3 separate regions of the Homo sapiens genome follow, and regions 2 and 3 are each linked to region 1. The links come from fine-mapping of genetic effects on gene expression. A gene starts in region 1. Each other region holds a variant in brackets. All regions are shown on one strand. Distances are between the middles of the regions.

Region 1 (2,759 bases):
ATATAAAGATCTACAAATGGACAGGGCAGAGGCCACTAATTCCTTGACCTTGAGGTGAGCCTCTCCCCAGCGACCAAAATGTGAGGACAGTTAATACCTTACTTGATACACCGTGAAAGGGACGAAAAGTGACCACAGCAGTTCTGAGACCCAGGAGGCATCTGACACCGTCTGAGGGGAGGGCATGAGATGAGGCCTAAGCCAGGGCCAGGGATGGGAAATTTCCCCTTCAAGCCCCAGAGATTCCCTGTTCAACACACACTCACCACAGAGACCAGGGGTCTCTGAACTTGCAGGGTAAGAGGTTGTACCACATCTTGGATAGAAAATGGCCAGGAACTAGAAGAGGAAGGAGAAAGTAGGATGGGAATCCAGCCAGCCTAGTCAGCAGCTCACACCTGCCTTATAACAGGCAACTGTCAAACTCTACAAGCACATAATTGAAGAATGAAGGGATTCAGGAGAAAGAACTTAAAGTGGACAGAAAGGAAATGAACTGGAGATGATGGGGTCTAAGGGCCGAAGAAAGTTGTAAAAACTCAAGGGCCCACAAGCTTGACCACCTACCCAGCTGGCGCCCCATACCTGTGCTAAACCCACCTGAAGCGCAGGAGCCCCTCCCGGCCATTGGTGGCCTCTTCCTCAGGGAATAGCAGCAGAGGAGTGGGGGGAAGCCTCGTGGAAGCACAGAATCTCTTGAGTGACTCCACCAACTCCCCCCGCCCATTCATCTCCATGAAGCCCCGAGACCAGCACACAAAGCTGGGGGGACTATTGAGTAGAGGCTGGGAACCAGGAGAAGAGAAAGCAAGAAGAAAAATATTGAGGAAAATGAAAAAAAAAACTGACATGTTGGGTAGAGGATCGGGGTTAGGGGTAAGGCTCAGTATCCTCCATGGGGAACGCGAGTGGGGACAGGGGGGCCTTCAGCTGGGCCCCAGGGAACCGCCCCGTGGCGCTCTCGGCCTCGCTCTCACTCACGGTGCTACAGGTGGTAAGCAAATTGACTATGTTGTGGTCGAAAGGTGTCACATGGTTGGAAATGAGGACCCTGACACTGTGATCCCGGAGTCCGGAGTCCTCCTGCCGGGCCACGAGCCCTAGCACCGCACACATGGTCCGCACTACGAATCTGGGGACACAGGAGGTGGTGACTGTGTGGCCTCGGGCCAGACCCAGCTCTGACACTCCCCGAACGCCCGCGTCGGAACCTGCGAAGGACGCTGTCTGGCAGCGCGCAGCTGACCAGGAAGACGTGGATCCCGAGAAAGAGGCGCAGGACGAGGAGGCAGAACCCGACTGGCGCGTAGAGCAGCAGCACGAGCAGTAGGAAGCAGTCACCCGGAAGCCTGGGGGCGAGAGGCGAAGTGGTCAGGCGCCGAAGGCCGAGAGCACGCGGGGATCGGTCTCTTCCCGCCGGGTCTCTTACCGGTGCGAGTCAAAGAGCCGCTCCGGCCCCGGCCCTGAGGGAAGCTCCATAACTGCTGCTTCAGGAGCGCCCGGCCGTCGCCGCCGCCGCCATTTTCGCGCCCGGCCGCAGGGGCTCTTGGGAAGGCGGAGTCTTTGGGCATCCGCCCGGGGTGAGGGGACCCGAAGTCCTGAGGCGCGCCGGAAGGGCTAGCGGTCCCAGCATACCCCGCGGCCCCTTGGGCCGTCTCACAACTCGCGTCCGGCGGAGACCACAATTCCCGGCATTCGTGGGGCAGGGAGGAGTCGGCCTCCCGGAATCCTGGTCCCGGCGTGCACTTCTGAAGGACTTCAGGTACCGGCGTGCCCCGCGTCCTACTGTCCGCCTGCTCGCGTCCTGGGTGCCGCCTCTGAGTAGGGCGGGCGAGGAGGCAGCCAAGGCGGAGCTGATGGCTGCGCCGAGGGCGGGGCGGGGTGCAGGCTGGAGCCTTCGGGCATGGCGGGCTTTGGGGGGCATTCGCTGGGGGAGGAGACCCCGTTTGACCCCTGACCTCCGGGCCCTGCTGACGTCAGGAACTTCTGACCCCCGGGCCCGAGTGACTTATGGGACCCCCAGTCTCTGGGCCCGGTTGTCTGTTGGGGTCACTGAACCCCGAGCATGCCTGACGTCTGGGACCCCGGGTCCCCGGGCACAACTGACTGCGGTGACCCCAGATACCAGGACCCGGGAGGCCTCAGAGAACTCTGGAACCCGTTCGCGCGCGTGGCTGGCGGTGGCGCTGGGCGCTGGGGGGGCAGTGCTGTTGTTGTTGTGGGGCGGGGGTCGGGGTCCTCCGGCCGTCCTCGCCGCCGTCCCTAGCCCGCCGCCCGCTTCTCCCCGGAGTCAGTACAACTTCATCGCAGATGTGGTGGAGAAGACAGCACCTGCCGTGGTCTATATCGAGATCCTGGACCGGTAATGGTGGGGGTAGACCGGGAGGCACTGAAGCCACAGGCTGGAGGGCGGGCGGGTAGGAGGGGTCAGAGCCTCCTCTTATCTGTGCTTTCCCTCCATTTCAGGCACCCTTTCTTGGGCCGCGAGGTCCCTATCTCGAACGGCTCAGGATTCGTGGTGGCTGCCGATGGGCTCATTGTCACCAACGCCCATGTGGTGGCTGATCGGCGCAGAGTCCGTGTGAGACTGCTAAGCGGCGACACGTATGAGGCCGTGGTCACAGCTGTGGATCCCGTGGCAGACATCGCAACGCTGAGGATTCAGACTAAGGTGGGGGCTGGGGTAGGCCAGGTCTGGTTGGAGCTGCTTATTTGCTCGCATCTTCAGATGACAGGTCTCTTTTACCCATTCTCCCTTA
Region 2 (2,759 bases), 200 kb after region 1:
AGGAGAATCACTTAAACCCAGGAGGGGGAGGTTGCAGTGCAGTGAGCCGAGATTGTACCACTGCACTCCAGCCTGGGCGACAGAGTGAGACTCCATCTCAAAAAAAAAAAAAAAAAAAAAAAGAGATTTGGTCTTTTGAGGTAGTTTTGTATATTTTGTAGGTGACCTGTATTTCTTTTCATTCTTTTTTTTCTCCTCATTTCTCCTCTGTGTATTTTCAAATAGCCTGTCTTTGAGCTCATTGATTCTTACTTCTGCTTAATCCATTCTGCTGTTGAGAGCCTCTAATGAATTTTTCAGTTCAGTAAACGTATTTCTGTTTCAAGATTTGTGATTTTTTATACTTTATTTTATTTTATTTTTAAATTTTGAGACAGAGTCTCACTCTGTTGCCCAGGCTGTAGTGCAGCAGTGCAATCTTGGCTCATTGCAATCTCCGCCTTCTAGGTTCAAGCAATTCTCATGCCTTAGCCAACTGAATAACTGGGATTACAGGCATGCGTCACCATGCCCAGCTAATTTTTGTATTTTTAGTAGAGATGGGGTTTCACCATGTTGGCCAGGCTGGTCTCAAACTCCTGGCTTCAAGTGATCCTTCTGCCTCGGCCTCCCAAACTGCTGGGATTACAGGTGTGAGCCACTGCACCCAGCCGCAAGATTTGTGTTTTAAAAAACTGCTTCAATATCTTTGTTAAATTTCTCTGACAAATTTTGGAATTGCTTTTCCATGTTATCTTGGAAATTACTGAGTTTCCTTAAAACTGCCATTTTGAATTCTTGGTCAGAGAGTTTATATATCACCATCTTGTTAGGGTCAGTTACTGGTTCCTTGCTTTGTTCATTTGAGGCAGTCATAGCACTCTACTGGCTGCCGTTTCTTGTGGATGTATGTCTATGTTTTTGCATTGAAGGATTAGTTATTCCAGTCTTCTTTGTCTGGCTTGTTTTGGTTTTTATTGGGTATGTTTGCTTAGAGATTCTTTGTAATTTATCAGTTGATTTTCTTTCTTATGTTCCACTGCTAGGTTGCTGCCTCCTTTTTGGCACTAAATGGTGCCTTAAGCCCGGGTTTGCCCTGGTTCTATTAAACAACCAGAGTACCACCAGTACTGAATGGGGTAGGTCTCAAGGGGGAATATCCTGGT[A/G]ATATCGAAAGGCTGGTTAAGAGTTTATGCCCAAGGATATGTGGAACAAACCTACAGTGTGGTGCTGCTCTAATTTGGTGTCTTCTTTGGCTGAGAGCAGTTTTCACAGCTGGAGATGGTAGTCCTGCCTCCTCAGTTTCCTTAGGGTGATTTCTCCTTTCAAGCACTCCCAGTGCATCCTGTGGTTTGAGGCAGGGACAGGTCTCCTGACAGAGAACCAAGAGGGTGGGCAAGCTGGTTGTCCACCCCAACTCACTTTTTCCAGTGTAGAAACCATGCGTCAGGGGAAATTTTCTATGCATTTTGTGCTAGGCAGACTGGGGAAAGGGGTGTCACAGATATGGAAGTCCAAGTCTCTTACCATCTGCTTGGAGTTTTTTTCGCTTCTCTGAGGCCAGGAGAACTTTCTCATCTTCATATTTGAGTTATAATTTATTGCTAGTGATAATCTCAGCACTGTATATTTGATCTTGGTTTTCTTTGGGGTGAGTGAAGCCAGCTTGTTTCTACACCAGCTTGTTTCTACACTCGTTTCTGGTTCTGCCATTTCAGAACCAGAAGTCTCCACAATTTTAAATAGAGTGGTCTGTCTGGGTAGACTTTATTGGGAAGAAGACATGACAAAGAGAAAACTTGAGCAAAGATTTGGCCTTAAATGTGAATAGGCTTGGCATACTTGAGGAATGTTCAGAGAACAGTGTGGCTGGACCGAGGGAGAGAGGGTGAAAAAAGTGAGAAAGTTGAAATTGTTTGCTGTTGGAAGGAGAAAATTAGAAGCAAGGAGGGTTTGGGCAGAAGATTGCCTTTCATAAGTCATGTATGATCATTTCCTTTTTCAATTGTGGACATGTTAACTTTTGTAAAAATAGAGCTTAAACTTAAAAATTATAAATCACAAAATGCAATGTGATTTCCTGAATTGGAACAGAAAAAGAATGTTAGTGGAAAAACTGGTGAAATCTGAATAAAGGCTAGTTAATCATAATGTACCCTTTTTTTTTTTTTTTTTTTTTAGTTTTAGCAAGTGTACCATGTAATATAAGATGGTAACATTAGGGGAAACTAGGTGAGGGGTATATGATAATTCTCTGTATTATCTTTGCAACTTTTCTGTAATTTTTCTAAAATTATTCCAAAATAAGTTTATTTTTAAAAAGCCTTTAAAACAAACAAAAAATTGAATCAGCTGATAAAATGCTGCCTTTTCCCTTTCCCCAATTCCAAGCCTTGTACTCTTACCTGGGTTTTAGCAGTTGGTCATTATTAGGTAGGAAGATGTGATTTACCTATGGACCCGGGCTGATCTCCAGATGGAAGGAAAAAGGCCAGCAGGGAAGGCTCTGTATATCATATCTGTGGAGCATCCAGCTCACAGCTTCTTGGTGGGTGACATTCAGAAGCTGAGAAGCAGAAACCAAAACAGAGGCATTTATGCAGGGGAAAAACAAAACCAAAAACAAAACATTAATGTGTAATTCCCATAAGTTCTTAAGAAAGCAGAGTAACAAATATATCTTTGCAGGACTTTATTTCTTAATCTCTGTCTCTAGAACTCTGTAGTTATTTCTAATAATGAGTAGTTTCAAAGTAGAAATAATCCCAGATCCTTGATCG
Region 3 (2,759 bases), 190 kb after region 1:
TGAGGAAACTAAGTCACAGAGAGAATAAATAACTTTCTCAAGGTCACCAAGTAAGTAAACTGGAGTCAGGTTCAAACTCAGGCAGCCTGACTCCAGGGCGCTTCAACCACAATGCTAATGGAATTATTCTAAAATGATTTTAAAAACAATCATTCATTTTCAAAATCATGGTATCGGAATGCGTGAAAAAAGACTTGCTATGGCACAGAGAACATTGTAATGGGGTAACCCGCCAGGCTAGGAATGACCCAGGTATGACCACTGGTCATGGCACAAGGCCCTTTCTGAGCAATATAGGCAGGGCAGAGCCTGCCATGATGGAAATCACAGTAACATCATGGAGGTGGCGCTGGTAAAAAAAAAACCAGCTCTGCCCGATGTGCATCGATTACAAGACCTGGTGGCGAACATATGTTTTACAGCCCTAAATTGCATTCGTGCAAATATTTATCATCCATCCCCTGCCAAATCCGCATAATGGAAAAACAAACCAAAGGAAAACCTCCAGAGGATGTGAAGGCTATATCAAGTCTCTTGCCAATTGTTGTGCTCTTTGGGCGTAATATATCTAAATCTTAGTAATTCCAGGATTTCCAGTAATCTGGAATATCCGCTACCCTGTCCTGAAAGCCCTCCTCCAGCAGTGGGCCGCCCAACTTGAGTTCGCTCAATTTCCTCTTTCACCTGCAGGTGGCAGCACGAGTGCCGATCGCTGTCAGGCGAGGGCGCTCAGGGGTGGGAGCCGAAGAGAGTAATTTAGGGATAGAGGTGAGAACGGAGTTAGACACAAAAGTAAGATCACATGAACTCCGACTTCGGATGGAACACATCATCCATTTAAACCCTCGAGCCGAGCTCAACTGGAAACTCCACCTAAGTAAGCGTCGTGGGCCCTGGAGCCCCGCGGCTCAGGGCAGGCCGGGGCGGGGCGGACGCAGCGCGGTTTGCCCGCCTGTGCGGAAGCCTCCGCAGTCCGCGGCTGGCAGGGCCTGGGGCGGTCTTTCGCGTGGGTGTCCGTCCCTCCGCAGCCGTACTGCCGGCGCCAGGGCCGGCTCTGCACATTTCGTAAGGCCTTACATGGCTGCACC[C/T]CCCCCGCCACCGAGGACCTGAGCCCGCCGGCCGCCCTCCCGCGCTCTCCCGCCTGGGGACTGCGAGCTCCGCGCTGCACCTCCAAGCGGGGGACGCCTGCGGACTCCACCAAGCTGCCTTCCCCCGTACTGCTGTCCCCTGTGGGAGCAGAGGAATCCGACCCAGGTCTGCAGGCGAGGGACAGGAGGCTTCTTTAGACCTGACAGGGTGCGGGTTATTTTGTCCCTCACCTTTCCTGCTCAGGGACCTGTCCTCCTCCGTCTCGTTCCATGCCTTCTCTCCTCCTCTTAAAGGATGCTAATCACATTCAAGCCAAAAGATTAGAGACTTTTCTGTGTCCTTCGTCAGGAATGCTTGGATTTGTTAGGAAGGGAACTGGATACAACTTCATGAGATATAAGGGTGTAATTTCAGACATGTGCGTTTCTTTCTAGGATTATTTAAATTACACCTCAACTCACAATCGGCTCATGCCTTACAACCATCTGTGGCTAAGAGGCAAGTCGGACTTCCTGGTAAACCCTCTTCTCTTAGGTGAAGCATGGAGCTGTGACCTTATTAACCTGAACAGCAATTGGGAGCCTCAAAATAGAAAAAGCAAAAACTCAGGAAAGTTTATTTATTTATTGTTAAGACAGAGTCTCACTCCATCACCCAGTCTGGAGTGCAGTGGCGTAATCTCGGCTCACTGCAACCTCCGCTTCCCGGGTTCAAGTGATTCTCATGCCTCAGCCTCCCGAGTAGCTGGGATTACAAGAGCCCACCACCACGCCTGGCTAGTTTTTTTTTTTTTTTTTGGTATTTTTAGTAGAGACAGGGTTTCGCCATGTTAGCCAGGCTGATCTCGAACTCCTGGCCTCAGGTGATCTGCCCGCCTCAGCCTCCCAAAGTGCTGGGATTACAGGCATGAGCCACCATGCCTGGCCAGAAACTTCTTTAATCAACATTGATTTTCCAGGAATAGAAGTTGTATAATAGAGAAAGCAGCACCTGAGTAGGGCCTTAGAGTCTAGAAGGTGCTTTCAGTTACAGGCTTGGGAGACACCCATTACTCATATGGTCTTCGATAGGTAAGTATTAATCCCTGGTGTTTGTAGTCATGATAATTACCACTTGTGAACAATGTAGCTGGTGTCCATTGTCCTCCACCAGTACTGCAAGACAAAGAGTCATTAACTAAGTAGATGACACACTCCTCTTAGTTTACACTCCGTCCCACTTGCCCCCCACCTCCATGAAAGCAGGTATGATTATTCTCCTGTAAAATTATTTTTCCTCCTACTTTCCTGACCTGAATTCAACTGCCTTTCTGTCTGCTCAACCTTCTGGTGAAGATTTCTGCCTCTGCCCCTCCCCATCTCACCTTCTAATTCCTACAGACTCCTCCCTAGATTGACCACCCGGGAATGACTGTCTAGATTATACATTATGAAATTTGATTATAGTTGATTAAACACATTGTTAAATATTGCCCTGACTTGTTTTCATTCTACTTTCTGAAAGTATAATCTGAACTAGCTGTGAGCTTTGAGAGAACAGGAACCATATTGATTAATCCTAGGCTTAATAAGATGTATTAAAAAGAGACAATAAATATTTAACAGTTGAGTATGAAGATGAAACTTTATTGATGAGAAACAGGAAATGTCATCCACTCAATCTTTCCATTA

Direction of the effects. Alleles are on the strand shown, and positions count from the first base shown. SD is a standard deviation of normalised expression in the study named.
For the expression in gastroesophageal junction of the gene that starts at base 1,556 in region 1, G is the low allele of the variant in region 2 and A is the other (moderate effect, 0.73 SD a copy in GTEx).
With allele C in place of T in region 3, the expression in cerebellum of the gene that starts at base 1,556 in region 1 is higher (large effect, 1.6 SD a copy in GTEx).

What was found.
Region 2: its variant is fine-mapped to the expression of AUP1 in gastroesophageal junction (GTEx, PIP above 0.99).
Region 3: its variant is fine-mapped to the expression of AUP1 in cerebellum (GTEx, PIP above 0.99). The same link has a PIP of 0.9 or more in caudate, prefrontal cortex, spinal cord, tibial artery and unexposed skin.

Annotation. Positions count from the first base shown.
Region 1 is chr2:74,528,151-74,530,909 of GRCh38, forward strand. It overlaps AUP1 (AUP1 lipid droplet regulating VLDL assembly factor), which reads right to left and starts at 1,556. Exons shown (of 12, transcript NM_181575.5): 1 at 1,430-1,556; 2 at 1,212-1,349; 3 at 982-1,132; 4 at 601-785; 5 at 267-339; 6 at 98-171. The coding sequence starts at 1,479. It overlaps HTRA2 (HtrA serine peptidase 2), which reads left to right and starts at 1,783. Exons shown (of 8, transcript NM_013247.5): 1 at 1,783-2,362; 2 at 2,467-2,671. The coding sequence starts at 1,857. RefSeq lists enhancers at 1,000-1,829, 1,002-1,884, 2,340-2,469, 2,490-2,559, 2,590-2,669 and 1 more and a silencer at 1,860-1,949.
Region 2 is chr2:74,729,601-74,732,359 of GRCh38, forward strand. The region is part of intron 2 of LOC102724497 (a long non-coding RNA gene); the gene reads left to right. Among named protein-coding and RNA genes, the nearest start is that of SEMA4F, 77 kb to the left of the region's middle. The variant A/G (reference allele first, on the strand shown) is at 1,146.
Region 3 is chr2:74,714,499-74,717,257 of GRCh38, forward strand. It overlaps LOC102724497 (a long non-coding RNA gene), which reads left to right and starts at 801. Exons shown (of 3, transcript XR_427047.5): 1 at 801-877. RefSeq lists a silencer at 928-1,187. The variant C/T (reference allele first, on the strand shown) is at 1,089.